Linked DNA regions of Homo sapiens: region 1 is linked to region 2. A link means that fine-mapping ties the variant in region 2 to the plasma level of a protein whose gene starts in the linked region. Region 2 holds a variant in brackets. A gene starts in the other region. All regions are shown on their reverse strands. Region 1 holds the start of C19orf12 (chromosome 19 open reading frame 12). Region 2 overlaps TNFSF10 (TNF superfamily member 10).

What was found. A credible set is the group of variants that fine-mapping cannot tell apart. PIP is the posterior inclusion probability: the model's chance that the variant is causal. Protein levels are from antibody-based Olink assays in UK Biobank. Linkage for the fine-mapping came from a reference panel and not from the study's own genotypes, which makes the PIPs less certain.
Region 1: C19orf12 starts here. The variant in region 2 is the best candidate, but not a certain one, in a credible set for the plasma level of the C19orf12 protein (UK Biobank, PIP 0.83).

Annotation. Positions count from the first base shown.
Region 1 is chr19:29,708,950-29,717,896 of GRCh38, reverse strand. It overlaps C19orf12 (chromosome 19 open reading frame 12), which reads left to right and starts at 2,636. Exons shown (of 3, transcript NM_031448.6): 1 at 2,636-2,772. RefSeq lists enhancers at 1,277-1,496, 2,042-2,141 and a silencer at 2,312-3,101.
Region 2 is chr3:172,515,193-172,523,085 of GRCh38, reverse strand. The region is part of intron 1 of TNFSF10 (TNF superfamily member 10); the gene reads left to right. It also overlaps the pseudogene TBPL1P1. Among named protein-coding and RNA genes, the nearest start is that of TNFSF10, 4.3 kb to the left of the region's middle. The variant C/T (reference allele first, on the strand shown) is at 6,859.

The DNA of each region.
Region 1 (8,947 bases), not on the chromosome of region 2:
GAGATTGCGCCACTGCACTCCCACCTGGGCCACAGAGCGAGACTCCGTCTCAAAAAAAAAAAAAAAAAAAAAAAAAAAAAAGAAACAACAAAAGAAGCTATAGGGTTTTTGGGTGTGGCCCACATTGCGGATCATCCAGCCCTGGTCTAGGTGGGTGGCTTTAGCCTGAAGGAGCCATGGAAGTTTTAGGAGCTGGTGCACTCAGCTTTGGGAGAAAGTGAGGGCATAGAACGCTGGCCCCGTCTGAGTTTTGACTCTGGCTGGCCGTGTGAACACCACCTAGCACCCTAGGGCATTGTTGGGCCCATCAGCAAGAGAATGTTTTGTCAAGGTGGGGGTAGAACTGGATTTCCCACTACCTTGGGCCCATGAGGCTCATGGGACTTTGGAGAAGCCGCTCATTTTCACATTCTGTAATGTAAACAAGAATAATCTAGATTCATATATATTACCTCCTTTTATGTTGAGAACAACCCTATAGGATAAGTACTACTCTTGTTGCCATTTCCCAGATGAGGAAACTGAGGCACGGAGACGTGGAAGAACTTTCCCTAGGTCACTGTAAGCAGCATAAAGCATCGCTGTGTGCTGGGCCAGTGCCATTTCCGCGCCACCACCGAGACCCCACGGCACGCCTTGCTCACTGTGCAGGAGGCCGCAGTTGCCTTTAGGAGCATGAGGCACTGTGTGCTCCATCTCTGGGGTTCAGAGTGTGCGGTCATGTTATGCCTGCATTCGTATCAGAATGAGGCCCAGGAGGCTGATGGGTTGCAGATTTGCATGCAATGGCGCGATCTCGGCTCACTGCAACCTCCATCTGCCGGGTCCAAGCGGTTCTCCTGCCTCAACCTCCCGAGTAGCTGGGACTACAGGCTTGCACCAACCATGTCTGGCTCATTTTTCCATGTTTAGTGGAGATGGGGTTTCACCATGTTGCCCAGGCTGGTCTCAAAGTCCTGGCCTCAGGTGATCTGCCCGCCTCGGCCTCCCAAAGTGCTGGGATTACAGGTGTGAGCCACCGCGCTGGGCTGCATGAACCTCTTACATGCTTGCCTTCTCTGGAGGGCCTGGACTTTGAAGCTTCTTTCACTCCCAGCATCTTTCCCTACACAGGCCCTCTTCCCCACTATCTCTGGGGGAGGAGTCTGCAGGCCAGTTCTGCAATGTGCCGCCAGAGGGAGCTGCCCGCAGAGAAACGGGAGCGCCACACTCAGGCCCCAGGAAGGCAGCAAGCTGAGTTCCCCTGGCCTCAGTTCACTTTCCCTCTTGAAAGTCACCCAAACTCAAGCAAAAGCTCCGATTCAGGAATAAATGGGGTTGTTTTATCCCAGCCAAGGCCTGGGGAAGCTTGGTATTAAGAGCGTTTGTTCCATTCTTTTAAAAATGGAAAAGGGTCCGTCCTCTGGGTGCCCATGGCACCCTGGAAAGCAGGCAGAGTGCTGGTCACAGGCGGAGACTTTGAGATACCGAGACCGAGGCTGGAGTTTGGGCCCTGAAACTTTCTAACCAGGATGGCCTTGGGCAGAGCAGCCTGTGTTTAGAGCTTCCCATCTGTAATATAGCAGTGACAACCATGCCTGCTTTGCAGGGTTCCTGTTAGGATTAATTCTCTATAGAGCCCCCCAGAAGCCACTTTTGGATTTGAGATGGTTCAAGGCCAGACCTTGCATGACAAGAGTAGGGACAGCTTTCCACAGGCCTCAATAAAGTAGTATTCCCAGGCAGTTCTGCAACCCCAGCCTCATGCCCTTTGCACCTTCCTAAGAGGCTGCCTTGCCTCAGCTTTGGTCCCCATCCAAGACTCCTAAGAGCAAAGCCAGTTCTTTTCCTTTTTTTTCTTTCTTTAAGAGACGGTCTCACTCTGTCACCCAGGTTGAAGTGCAGTGGTGGGATCATAGTTCACTGCAGCCTCGAACTCCTGGGCTCAAGCAATCCTCCCGCTTCAGCCTCCCAAAATGCTGTAGGTCACAGGTATGACTCACCCACCCGGCCTAATTTTTATTATTATTTGTAGAGATGGGATGTCACTGTGTTGCCCACGCTCGAACTGCTGGGCTCAAGCAATCCTCCCTCCTCAGCCTCACTGGCAGCTGGGATTACGAGTCCCACCCAACCTGCTTCTCCTTTTGCAACCCCCAGACCCAGAGGCTCCAGAGCAGGCTCTGGAACAGAGGAAATCTGGCTCCGGCCCACACATTCACCAAATACTGACGCAGCACCCTTGACCTCCAGATGCCCCTGTGCTCTCTTCTGTGCCCAGGCTGCGGGGAGAGAGGGGTCCTCCAGGCCAAAGGGAGGGAGGTCTCCGGGAGGTCCCCGCGGTCCTGGAGGCAGGTGCGCGGGGCCCGGATGTGATCATGCGTGCGCGTGGGAGAAAGGCAGGGCTGGGCCTGCGGGAGCGCGGCCTTGCGGTTCCCAGGACTCTTCTCCGGGCGCCTCGTCTCCTTACGCCACCCGCAACCCAAGCCAGGGCCCCGGTGACAGCGGCGGGGTGGGCCAGGACCGGGGAGGGGGTGCCCAGCAGCGACCCCCGGCTCCCCCTAAGGCCGGGCGCAGCTCGGAGCCAGGAGCTGGCCCGGCGCGTGGCTTCCCGGAAGGCCCGGCGCAGCCGGAAGGTGGGACGGAGGGCGGGGCCAGCGCCGGGGCCGCCACCAAGGCCTGCGCGACCCTCCGCGGGGCTGGGGAGCTGGGCGGGGAGCCCGGGGCCTGCCAGGCCCGGGCTGCAGCCGCGTCTGATCGCCGAGCGCGCCGCGTAGACCTCCGCTCCCCCAGGTAAAGGAGCGCCCGGAGCCGGGGCGGGGCGCCTCCCAGGCCGCGCCCCGCGAGAGGAGGGGGCACCCCAAGAGCAGGCCTGGAGACCCGGGAGTGCCTTGGGGAGAGGGTCCCCGCCCTGCCGGGAGCCCGGCCCTCCCGGTGCCGGGGTGGACACTGTTAGTGTAGTCATTGTCCCTATGGAGAAACTGAGGCATGGAGAGGCTGAAGTCACACAAGTAAGCAGCAGAGCTGGGACTAGAGTCCCGGGCCCTGGCTCGCTGTCACCCAGGAGTGGCGTAGGCATGGGTGTGGTGGGTGGGGGTGGGGTGCGGGTGGTGGATGTGGTGGGAGTGGGTGAGGTTGGGTGGGGTGGGGATGTGGGTTTGGCGGGGGTGGGGTGCGGAATGTGATGGGTAGGGGTGGGGTAGAGTGGGGGTGGCTGGTGGGGCAGGGGCGGGGCTGGGGGTGGGGTGCTAGGTATTATAAATGTGAAGCGGATCCTGACAGGACACCTGTGGGGCAGCGGAGCTGGGCTGAGCCATATGGGAAGAAAATCTGGGCGCTAGTTTAGATTTGGTCAGGAAGGGTCGTTAATGCTTTAGGAGGTGAGATTAGTTTTGGGGATGGCAGGTAGTTTGTTGAGCTTTTGTTTAGACAGTCTTGCTCTGTTGTCCAGGCTGGAGTGCAATGGCGCGATCTCGGCTCACTGCAACCTCCACCTCCCTCGTTCAAGCAATTCCCCTGCCTCAGCCTCCCTAGTAGCTGGGATTACAGGCGACACCACCAAGCCTGGCTAATTTTTTTGTATTTTTAGTAGAGACGGAGTTTCACCATATCGGCCAGGCTAATCTCAAACTCCTGACCTTGCGATCCACCTGCCTCAGCCTTCTGCAATGCTGGGATTACAGACGTGAGCCACCCCGACCAATTTTTGTATTTTTTAGTAGAGACGGGGTTTCACCATCTTGGAATAGCACCTGTAGTTCCAGCTACTCGGGAGGCCGAGGCGGAAGAATTGCTTGAGGCCAGTTCCCGACCAGCCTAGGCAACACAGGGAGACTGCGTTTCTGGAAAAAACAACAACAACACCAGCAACAACAAAAAGCAGGAAGGAAGGGGAGAGGGAAAGAGAAAGAGAGAGAGAGAGAACGAAAGAGAAAGAGAAAAGGAAGGAAGGAAGGAAGGAAAGAAAGAAAAAAAGAAAGAGGGATACTTTGAGAAGCTTTGAAGTGATCTGTTTATTGATCAAGTAGATAGGTAAGGTGCATGCTGCCAGGAGGAGCTGGGGTAGGGAGGGCAGGGCCCTGCTGTATGGGGGTGGGCAGGGGACGGCCCCTGCTCAGCCCTGGCCTCCATTGCTACACAGAATGGCAGGTCCAATGTGATCTGGTCTTCTGATTTTTCAGGAGAAATCAGGAATCTGAGGTGCATGCAAAATCTCCTGATTTTTAAATATTGGCAACTAATTTGTTTTAAAAAAACAACAACTATGAGCTAATCCAAAACTGTTTGCTGGTGGGATCCACCTACTGCCTTTGCGCTGGGGTATGGAGAGGTGGGAGGTCAATGTTGACAAGAGCCAGATCTAATTTTTTGTTAAAGAAAAGGGTACTTGGAGGTCAGATAGCTCTCTTCATAGCTATCTGAAGCCTTCCTCTCCCTTATCTCTTACAATCTGGTCCAAACTCAGAAAGCTAGGCCGCTCTCGGTGAGATGGGCTTGTCTCCGTCTCTCTGTACCTGTCAGAGCAGCCTGGGCGCCTGCAAGAAACCGGGGCTTCCAGTTGGCATTTGCCTTCCCTGTGGCTGGCAGATGGGCTTCCTGTGATCAAGGCCTGGTATGTGGATAAATCTGAGTGTGAAATAGGTGTGATACAGTGGGGGAGGGGGAGCCACACTCCCACCCCCTAAGGTCTGTCCCCATCCTCCCTCCTCACCCACTTCCCTGTCATTTACAGACAAAGGCAGCCTTGCGGTGGGAGAAGGAGCAGGGTGGGCTTCCCTCTCAATCTGGTGAGCCTGGAGAATTCAGGAAGCTGAGCTTTTTAGCAAGGGCTCAGGAGATGGAGTTACTAACCTTTCTTCCCCAACAAGAGCCTGTTAATGCTCTAACTTCTGAAATGATTACTACAAAGAAATTGAACCTTGGATGGAGTCAGCCACAACATCTCTACCCGTGGTGCTGGACTATTAAAACACAGTGACTTCCTCTGCCTGCCCTCACACACGCAGTGATAGCTGCTGGCCCTCCCATTCTGCAGAACCCTGGGCTTGTGTCTCAGTGAAACCTGCCTCATTGTCTGAGATATCACTGAAGTTCTGGGTCTCATGGCCAAGGAAATCAAGGACGCAGACACTCCAGAGGGTAGGTTAGAGCAGAAGTTTAATAAGCAAAAGAAAGAAAGCTCTCTGGATCAGAGAGGGGTCCCAGAAAGATGGGTTGCCATTTTACAGTGAAATGCAAGGGTTTTTATAGAAAAGCTGGTGGGAGGGGTGCTTCATTTACATAAGGTGCGAATTTCTGAGTCCCCCGCCCCACTGTTTCTAGTGCACATGTGGGCTTCTTAGCCTGAGTTACTACTCCATGTTGCTTATTTCTTCCTACTGTGCATGTGTGAAAAAGGTTGGGTGGTGGGGGGGAAGAACACTCCAAGGTAGACATGCCTGGTCCAGGGTAGCTCTTCTTATCAGTGCCATGCAAGCCTCTGTGTCTGAGTATTTCTTTTTTCTTTTTTTTTTGAGACGGAGTCCCACTCTGCTGCCAGGCTGGAGTGCAGTGGTGTGATCTCAGCTCACTGCAACCTCCACCTCCCGGGTTCAAGTGGTTCTCCTGCCTCAGCCTCCCAAGTAGCTGGGATTACAGGCGAGCACCATGACACCTGGCTAATTTTTGTATTTTTTTAGTAGAGATGGGTTTTCACCATGTTGGCCAGGATAGTCTCGATCTCTTGACCTCGTGATCTGCCCACCTCGGCTTCCCAAAGTGCTGGGATTACAAGCGTGAGCCACCGTGGCCGGCCGTGTCTTGAGTATTTCTAAGAAGGGAGAGGACTGTGCTTACTGGGGCCCACCATATGTCTGTATGTCACACAGGGGACCCGCTTTCTGTGTTAGAGCTTGCCTTCCTTATCTGTGTTTCCTGAAAGGGCAACGACTTCTTAGGCTGCTTTTTGTTAGAAGGGAATTCTGCCAAGGACCCTTGCCCTAACTATTTGCCTAATTGATTTCTCTCTCTCCTCTCACATTGATGCTGGCCTGGCTGGAGCAGGTAGAGCTGGAAGTAGCATTTTTGCAAGGACATCTCTTTAGCCTCTGTAGATTTTCACCTCAAGTCATTCGGAGCAGGTCGGAAGCTAGGTTTTTTTTGGGGGGGGAAGCCAGTAGAGCTAAAGTGGTTATGTATCTGTTTCCTGCCTTCCTTCTTTCCACTTCTACATGCATTTTCTTGCTGTGCAGAAACTGTTTTGAGAGTGCAGACCCAAAACTGCAGAAAACCTGTTTTGGGAGTGGTGTCTGGGTGCTGGCCTGGAAGCCAGCCTTGCAGACCAAGCATGGCAGGGCTCAGGGTCTTCACGCCCGGGGAAAGGGAGGTTCCTTGCAGCCTCCAAAGGGGCCCTCCTGAGACCTGGGCAGTGCCTCTCTTTTTCCAATATAATTGACAGATGAAAAGCTGGATATAAACCAGAACTAAGCTCAAAGGTGATTAGATATTTTACACCAGGATTTTGAGCTTTTTGTAAGATTTTACTGTAAAATTATTTCCTTTGGTTACTTTAATATGTACTTCAAATATATCTCATTTTGTGCTGGACGTAGTGGCTCACGCCCATAATCCCAGCACTTTGAGAGGCCAAGGCAGGCAGATCACCTGAGGCCAGGAGTTCAAGACCAGCCTGGCCAACATGGTGAAACCCCATCTCTACTAAAAATACAAAAATTAGCCAGGTGTGGTGGTGCATGTCTGTAGTCCCAGCTATTCGGGAGGTTGAGGCAGGAGAATCGCTTGAACGTGGGAGGCGGAGGCTGCAGTGAGCCGAGATCGCGCCGCTACACTCCAGCCTAGGTGACGGAGCAGACTCTGTCTCAAAAAAAAAAAAAAAAAAAAAACCTCTCTGTATATCTCTATCTAGCTATCTATGTCATTTTGTTTGTGTGATAGCTTTTCAGGACCATGGTGACTGGATAAATCAGGTTCTGCGCTCCGTCTCCCCATTTCCAGGTGGCTTCTGCCTGTTCAGTCCTGACACTGTTATAATGCCATTTTATCGTTTAGACATTTGTATGTAAACAAATCTTGACCACTGGAATAGTGGAAGGGGGTTCTCTTCTGGGGAGAAGGAGGAGGCATTCAACCTGTCAGCAAGCAAAGGAGCTGGGCAGGGCCTGGAAAGCAGGAGACCAGGTTTTGGGAGACCCAGGGCACAGGGTAGCCAGAGCAGGGACCCCCAGGCCTGAGTGCTCCTCCAGTCCCTTATGTGAGCAGGGCTCACAAGGCCTGCCCTCCCACTGCCTCTCATACTCCATGGGGACAAAAAGACATATCTAGGGGTGCTTGTTTGCAATTTCTGAATTTGAAGACTGAGTAACGAATGTCAGAGTCCTGCGTTATGCCCTCTTGGGGTCTTGCTGCCCAAAGTGAGATCAGAGGAGCACTTTGGGGGCTTGTTGGAAATGCAGAATCTTACCCTCCCATACTGGCTGTATCTGACAAGGTTTTCAGTGATTCCCGTGCACTTGTGGAGAATCACAGGTCTAATGTGTACCAACGGGGAAAAAGAAGGGAAATTTACAGGGGCAGGAGCGCAGGATGCTCTCCTGGGACTGCAGAGAAGTTCTGAGGACCTGGCTTTGCGGTCCTCTCATGGATTCATGGGTTTGTTCTCTGGGCTCAAAATTATATCCCAGGATTGGGAGAGCAATTTTACAGTAGGGACTTCTGCTTCTGGATCATCCTTGGGTCAGAAAAGCACACATGTCTGGGTACGGTGGCCCACACCTGTAATCCCAGTACTCTGGGAGGCTGAGGCAGGAAGATTGCTTGAGCTCAGGAAGTCAAGACCAGGCTGGGCAACATTGCGAGACCCTGTCTCTATGAAAACAAAAAATTAGCTGAGCGTAGTGTTGCATGCCTTTAGCCCCAGCTACTCAGGAGACTGAGGTGGGGGGATCACTGTAGCCCAGGAGTTCAAGGCTGCAGTCAGCCATGATCGCACCACTGCACACCAGCTTGGGCAACAAGAGACACTGTCTCTTAAAAACAAACGAACAAACAAAACAAAAAAACCTCATAAAACATATAACCCAAAGATATTAAGGTCAAATGTAGTGGCTCACGCCTGTAATCCTAACACTTTGAGAGGCTAAGGCAGGAGGATCTCTTGAGCCCAGGAGTTCAAGACCAGCCTGGGCAACATAGTAGTCATCTCTACTAAAAATAAAAATAAAATTAGCTGGGCGTGGTGATTGCATACCTGTAGTCCCATCTACTCAAGAGGCTGAGGTGGGAGGATCGCTTGAGCCCAGGAGGTCAAGGCTGCAGTGAGTTGTGATCATGCCACTGCACTCCAGCCTGGGCAACAAAGCAAGACCCCATCTCAAAAAAAAAAAAAAAAAAGATAATAAGCAATAGAATCTATCCATAACTTCCTCAGTTGAATTGCTGTAGCACCTGTTTCAATATTTCCACCTAGAATGAAATGGGAAGTGCTGGTGAGAAAGGGAAGTACTGCTGGAGCCTTGGGCTCAGCCAGAGCTCTGAGGAGACCCCCCACCTCGTGGCCCCTTTGATTTTCTCAGCCTTTGGGCTCTCCAGAGCCCGTCTCTCCCTGCCCTGGCTCCAGCATGCCACACATTTTCCCTACCCTGGAGGATTGTGCTAAAGGTCATTGTGCTAAAGGTCTACTCGCCCGTCCGTCTGTCTATTCATATATATTGCAAAGCCTGGGAATGATTTCATGTATTTTTTCTCCAGTTGCTTTGTCTCCCTGCTTTATCTTTTCCCTGCTTTTAGTGTCCCATGGGTACAACTGTGTTGACTTTTAAGAACAGTTGCTTAAGGCAGCCCAGTGTGTGTGTTAGTAACAGTGTTCGTTCAGAGCCATCCTGGGTCGGGAGCCTGCAGGCTTCCAGACTTACGCCAGGCACTTCCTGCCCATCCTGCTGGCACTGTCTGAGAGTCCAGCCTGTAGGGACTG
Region 2 (7,893 bases):
AAGTTCAAGAAATTGTGTAAACTAAGTGCAGTTACACAACTGGCTTCACTAGTTACTAGCAGATGTGGGCAACAAAACTCCTGAGGGATTTTTTGTTTTTAAAAGTATGTGTATTTTATAATATCAGCCATTGCAACTCTTCATGAAAGCTTTCTGCTAAATGCTTTGTAGTTCTTTTGTTTTCCTTTTCCAAACTTTTATTTGTGCACATTCAATTGAAAAAGATAATTTTTACAGGTTCTTTGGTGCCCATTTTCAGCATACAAAAATGTAAAAGACTATTCACAGATAAAACACATTAGCTCAAAATGGAAAAAAATAACAATGACAACAATAAAACAACCTAAGGTAGTGCACACTGTGACAGCTCTGCTTATGGGGACATGAGAATTCCTGCGAAAATAAATAGAATGTCCTTTTGTAAAAGCAGCAATGACATGTCTTGTAAACTTCCTTTTTTATATTATAACAAGGTTTGGAATAAAATCCAAAGGGACTGGAGCTTACACTGTAGCCATGAATAAATAAAAGAGTCTATTTCCTCAATTACCGTTGGTTCAGTTTTCCTTTTGAGTCCAATGTGCAGCAGGTTTTAAAAGGTGCACAGTAAGAGATTCTAACCAATTAAGTGGTGAATGATAAAATTTCTTTCCTGCTTTCAAACACAAATGGGTAAATCTGTTCCACAGCAGTAGCAACAGCCTTTAAATAGGGCCTTGTTACTGTGATACTTCCTGTCGAAAAAATCTGTAATGTAGCTCTTAGAGTCTTTATCCAATAGCACACAGCAGGATGAAGTTCAGATTCATAACTCACATGAGGTCTATTGCTCTTTGTGAATTCTGGCAAACAGATTTCTTTATTTTTAAATTTTTTTATTTTACTTTAAGTTCTGGGATACGTGTACAGAACGTGCAGGTTTGTTACATAGGTATACATGTGCCATGGTGGTTTGCTGCACCCATCAACCCATCATCTAGGTTGTAAGCCCCACAGGCATTAGGATTTGTTCTAATGCTCTCCCTCCCCTAGCCTCCCACCCCCGACAGGCCCCAGTGTGTGTGTTGCCCTCCCTGTGTCCATGTGCTCTCACTGTTCAACTCCCACTTATGAGTGAGAACATGCAGTGTTTGGTTTTCTGTTCCTGTGTTAGTTTGCTGAGAATGATGGCTTCCAGCTTCATCCATGTCTCTGCAAAGGACATGAATTCATTCTTTTTAATGGCTGCATAGTATTCCATGGTGTATATGTGCCACATTTTCTTTATCCAGTCTATCACTGATGAGCATTTGGGTTGGTTCCAAGTCTTTGCTATTGTAAATGGTGCTGGAATAAACATATGTGTGCATGTGTCTTTATAGTAGAATGATTTATAATCCTTTGGGTATATACCCAGTAATGGGATTGCTGAGTCAAATGGTATTTCTGGTTCCTTGAGGAATTGCCACACTGTCTTCCACACTGGTTGAACTAATTTATACTCCCACCAACAGTGTAAAAGCATTCCTATTTCTCCACATCCTTCCAGCATCTGTTGTTTCCTGACTTTTTAATGACCACCATTCTAACTGGAGTGAGATGGTATCTCATTATGGTTTTGATTTGCATTTCTCTAATGACCAGTGATGATGAGCTTTTTTTCATGTTTGTTGGCCACATAAATGTCTTCTTTTGAGAAGTATCTGTTCATATCTTTTGCCCACTTTTTGATGTGGTTTTTTTCTTGTCAATTTGTTTTACAAGAAACAAATTCCTTGTAGATTCTGCATATTAGACCTTTGTCAGATGGGTAGATTGCAAAAATTTTCTCCCATTCTGTAGGTTCCCTGTTCACTCTGATGATAGTTTCTTCTGCTGTGCAGAAGCTCTTTAGTTTAATTAGATCCCATTTGTCAATTTTGACTTTTGTTGCAATTGCTTTTGGTGTTTTAGTCATGAAGTCTTTGCCCATGCCATCTTGAATGGTATGCCTAGGTTTTCTTCTGGGGTTTTTATGCTTTTAGGTTTTACGTTTAAGTCTTTAATCCATCTTGAGTTAATTTTTGTAGAAGCTGTAAGGAAGGGGCCCAGTTTCTGTTTTCTGCATATGGCTAGCCAGTTTTCCCAGCACCATTTATTAAATAGGGAATCCTTTCCCCATTGCTTGTTTTTGTCAGGTTTGTCAAAGATCAGGTGGTTGTAGATGTGTAGTGTTATTTCTGAGGCCTCTGTTCTGTTCCATTGGTCTATGTATCTGTTTCCATACCAGTAACATGCTGTTTTGGTAACTGTAGCCATCTTCCCTGCTTTGTTGTTGCAGGTTGGAGTTACAGTTCTTGACTCATGAATTCTTGAGGGTGAGGGTAGCTGTATCAGAGCTGTGTCTGCTTCTGCTCATTAGTATACCTCTGGGTCTAGCATGTGGTTCCCAAGTAGCCACTAATACTAATACTTGTGGTTCACTACATACTTATTGAGTGAATGAACAGCCTTCACAGATGTGGTAGGCACCACGAATATGCAGGCGACAAGGGTAGAGTCAGGCTCAACCCAAAGCCAGGCCCTAAGTCACTGAACACTCCCGTTTTGTATTCCAGATGTAGCTAGTCCTGGTGAACTTTCACATCTTTGAAATGTTTTGCTTTTAGTTATGTGGCATTCCTGTGTTGACAATAAGTGAGAATACAAAGGACTGGCATTCTGCCTATTCCTGGGGCACGGGCATGTCATGGGTAAAATCTGTAATAAAGAAGTTATCAGATAGACACAGCTGTTCATGATAAAACAATTGAAAAGCAAACTGCCAATCTCTGCCTGTGGATGGTCCATGTACAAATTGAGGTATCTTTGACAGACAAAACAAACAAACAGTGCTATTTTAATTTATGATTTTCTCGATGAAAACCCCTGGAACTATGACTGCAAAATTGCTGAAAATAAACCAACTCAGTTTTTGACTTCTAATATATATTTTAATTCATTGTATATTAAATAGTAGAGAATTATGAGCTGCAAGGAACGTCAGATCCTCCCCCCACCACCACAACCACTTTTTACAGACGAGGAGACAAGAAATAATGTACTCAAGTTCAGACAAGGCTTTGGAGGCTGGCCGTGGGGCGGCTAGCACCCAGGTCTGTAGGCTCTTCCCTCCACAGTGGGATGTCCACAGGGTTAACCTATCTACACCTTGTGATGTACACTGTGCATGCACAGCGCATCCTGCAGCACCAACTCTGCCAGCTGACTAGGAAATGAAAGGCTAAGGATCTCAGAAAAGTATAAATTGTGCAAAAGACATAGAGTAGTAACTATTTGCTAGGGAAATGTAGTTTGCATATCCTGTGGAATGTAAGTTTGGTTATCCCAATCAGTCGGAAATTTTTCTTTTGGAAATGGATGAGGCAGACTCTTGTTTTATTTGCAACTAATTATGAAAATTATGGCTACTATTAGATGACCAGTAAAGTCAGGTTTATTGTAGGACACATTTAGAAAAGATTTTCTTTTGTAAGAAAAAAATATTAATGAAACTGTAATCATACCTTTAGCTTTAAGTCTACACGAGAGACTGGAATACTGCTATGTTCACCAATTTGGAGCCAGAATTTCCTAACCTTTCTTAACTTTGCAGCATAAACAGAGTAAAGCTGTTACTCCACACACAAGTAGCTCCATCAATTTGCTTACATTACAAGTTGGACTAATTTTAAGATTGAATCAACCAGTTCTTTACTCAACTGACTCATGCAATTGTCTGTATATATAATCAAATTTCTTTTTCAATTCTACTATAAAAATGGAAATTTCATATAAGGCTTAAGATCTTCCCACTTGCATACATTTTTCCTAATTGCATATTGACATATGAACACATGTACATTAGGCATGCAGAAGAATTCATTGAGAGTGCTAGAAAGCTAGGAGAATTACAGATATTGAGCAATTACTGTGTACCAGCAACTTTGAAAAGTATTGCCTGGTTTCAATTCTCATAACAATTCTATTATGTAAGTATAATTACCCCATATTACAGATGAACAAACTAAAGCTCAGGCGAAGTTAAGAGATTTGTTCAAGATTACAAAACTAGTAAAAGGTAAAACCTGATTTTGAACCCAGGCATGAAGGAGGTACTCAATAAATTGAAGCACCTACTTTTTTTTACAATACATTTTTTCAATACAATACAATGCTATTTTTATAGTAGCGTTCTAATTACTGCTGAAAAGTCTCCTGAAGGTGTCACTTTCTTCATCAGAAATTTTCCAAAGGGAAAATAAGTTTGAATCTTCTGTGTAGACTTTGGAAAAGTATATTCAACATAAGTATTAATTTCTTAAAATTGAATACAGGCTCCACTTTGTCTGGTGAACATTTGCAGAAGATACACTCTGCAAGGATTATAGGGTGTAAGGGTTAAGGAAGGCTTCATAACATTGGATTGGACCTTCACAAATAGCCTGTAGACCAGCAAACATGAACAACAAATATGGGCTTAGCCCCTGAAATCTGTGTCCCTCTGAGAAAGTTTTATGATAAAGGAATGGCCTGTCACTGTGACATCATAGATGGGGAGGAAAAAGGAGAAGGGCTTCCTCTCCACGGATCTCCATAAATGATCCTTTATGCTATTTGCAGTTTGCAGAAAATGATTGCCAGAGACTAATGTCTGGGCAGCAGACAGGGTCATTGCTGCCATCTTGAAGTCTACCTTGCTGAGTCTACCCTGCTGACCTCAAGCCCCATCAAGGACTGGTTGACCCTGGCCTAGACAACCACCGTGTTTGTAACAGCACCAAGAGCAGTCACCATGGAAATCCACTTTTCAGAACCAAGGGCTTCTGGAGCTGAAGAACAGGCACCCAGTGCAAGAGCTTTCTTTTCAGAGGCACGCAAATGAAAATAATCCCCACACGCTACCTTCTGCCCCCAATGCCCAAGTGTGGTTAGTTAGAGAATATAGCCTCAGCCTATGATATGCTGCAGGAAACTCATATTTTGAAGTGGAAAGGATGGGAGGAGGCGGGGGAGACGTATCGTATTAATTATCATTCTTGGAATAACCACAGCACCTCACGTCAACCCGCCATGTGTCTAGTCACCAGCATTGGCCAAGTTCTATAGGAGAAACTACCAAAATTCATGATGCAAGAAACATGTGAGGGTGGAGAGAGTGACTGGGGCTTCCTCTCTGGATTTCTATTGTTCAGAAATCAATATTTATGCATAAAAAGGTCTAGAAAGAGAAACACCAAAATGACAATGTGATCTCTAGATGGTATGATTATGGGTACTTTTTTTCCTTTTTATTTTTCTATATTTTACAAATTTTCTACAGGGAATGTTATAAAAATATCCATGCTATCCATGTATAATTTTCATACAGATTTAAAGAACACAGCATTTTTATATAGTCTTATGAGAAAACAACCATACTCAAAATTATGCACACACACAGTCTGATCTCACCCCTGTAAACAAGAGATATCATCCAAAGGTTAAGTAGGAGGTGAGAATATAGCTGCTATTAGTGGTTGTTTTGTTTTGTTTTTGTGATTTACTTATTTAGTTTTTGGAGGGTTTTTTTTTTCTTTTAGAAAAGTGTTCTTTACTTTTCCATGCTTCCCTGCTTGCCTGTGTATCCTGAATGTATCCAGGCTTTATAAACTCCTGGGTAATAATGTAGCTACATTAACTTGTTAACCTCCCATCCACTTATACCCAGGACCTTACTCAATTTTCCAGGTTCCTTCCACCTCCTCCTGAAAGTATTTCTGGAAAATACTCAGAAGGGATCACAGGCTCTAGCCAGCAATTGGTGCTAACCTGGGCTAGTCCCTGTGGCACAAGCTCCACCACGACCATCCTTGTCAAACTCCACCTCAGTTGATAAGTTGTTGCCTGCTGCCATTACTGCCTGATCACAGGCAGCTTTCAACTCTGCACCTTGCCTCTCACAGCTGAAGCCTCCCATATTCAGCCATTTCCTGCTGAGATAGCTTACAGCTGATGTGAAGTGAAAAGGCATACCGCTCCCTCCTTTCTGTGTTATGCACACCTTCTTGCCCCAACAAGTTACAGAGACTTGTGAGCCTGCTTGTTCAGTGTAATCAAACCGAAGCTTGGCCAGAGCCAACTCATACTGAGTGAACTGGGACAGTGTCCAGGGAAAGTTTGCTCTTCCTGGAACCACCCTCGGGCCTTGTGGCTGATCCCAGTTTCTCGTCTCTTCCTTCTTGATCCTTTCCCACAGTTTGCTAGACATGCTCTCATATTTCTGAATCATATGTGACTGAGTGCCTTCCTTGGAAAGGTTTTGCATCTCCCAAGTCAATTCGAGGTGCAACTGGATGTTTACAGGTGGGGCAGGCAGGGGCAAGGAAATGTACCTAAGTCCATGGCCAGTCATATCTCAACTCAGGAGGCCCCAGCTTCACCTCCAACTACATATACTACGGGAATGTTTTTCTCTTGTAATTTAAAAGAGGAAGAAACAAAATAAACATTTGTTTAAAAGTAAATGAATGATCTATGTCAGGGTGTGTGGAAGAAATTTATTAACTCAAGTTTGCACCTTTGCATTTGAGGGACCTTGGCCAAATGTCCAAGGGTTACATGGCTGAGTACAGAACTGTGTGATTCTAGCTGGGACCTCTCATAAACAGTTAAGATATTTTGATTTAAAATGATATTGTCTTTCTATAGGAAGGAGTGAATCATCGTTCAATTTGATCCTCCCTTCAACCTTTGCAGTACCTTAGTTCAAATAACAGATTAAAATTGTCATTTTCTCATTTATTTCCCTAGGTAGTCAATTCAGCAGATTTTTTTTTTTTTTTTGAGATGGAGTCTCGCTCTGTTGCCCAGGCTAGAGTG[C/T]AATGGCACGATCTCAGCTCACTGCAAGCTCCGCCTCCCGGGTTCACACCATTATCCTGCCTCAGCCTCCCAAATAGCTGGGACTACAGGCGCCCGCCACCACGCCCAGCTAATTTTTTGTATTTTTTTAGTAGAGATGGGGTTTCACTGGGTTAGCCAGGATGGTCTCGATCTCCTGACTTTGTGATTCACCCGCCTCGGCCTCCCAGAGTGCTGGGATTATAGGCATGAGCCACCGCGCCTGGCCAATTCAGCAGATTTTTTCAGGGAAATAACGTCTCTTCCATCCCACTTGTTAAAACAAAACAAAACGGAAGAGAAGAAATGAGCAAAGCAAACAAACAAACAAACAAAACCCTTCTGGCTTTGTTTGGACCTTCTGTTTCCTGTTTTTCTCAATTAAACAATTATCAGCCTAAAGAGTTCTGGGTGGTTTGGGATGGGGTGTGTGTGGGTGTGTGTGTGTGTTTATAACATCAAGCAAGGATTTGTTGATGAGGGTGAGGAGCTCGTTGATAATGATCTGACTATTGCCATTGTTTACTTTCAATCAGAACAGGGAGAAAACCTTCAAAGAGTGTTTAAGGTCTCTACCAATAAATCCCTAGTTAGTGTAAACATTTAATGAGACAGCATTCAGATTTCTAGTGGCAACATGGTCCAGATTTTGCCAGCCAGAGGAGTAGAAATCAGATCAGTAACTAGAATCTATTTAGCTAGCCACAGCTAGAAACAGAACATGACCCCCTCCCAAATGACTTGGCTGTTTTTTATTTAGGATCCTAAAATGTAAACTGACTCCACTACCGACCTTGTATCTAGGTAGGTTTCCAGCTTCAAAATGGGATACATACCATGGCAGAACTGGAAGAGACCTCAGAATCACCATAGTGAACCGGCTCAAAACTATAAACAGACACAGGAGAATGGAAGCAACTTGTCAAGAAAAGCACAGCTGTTTAGTAAGGGAGGCAGGGAAGGACACTGTGACTCCAGATGCCTGAAGCACACCTGCATCCTTTCCACCATATCCAG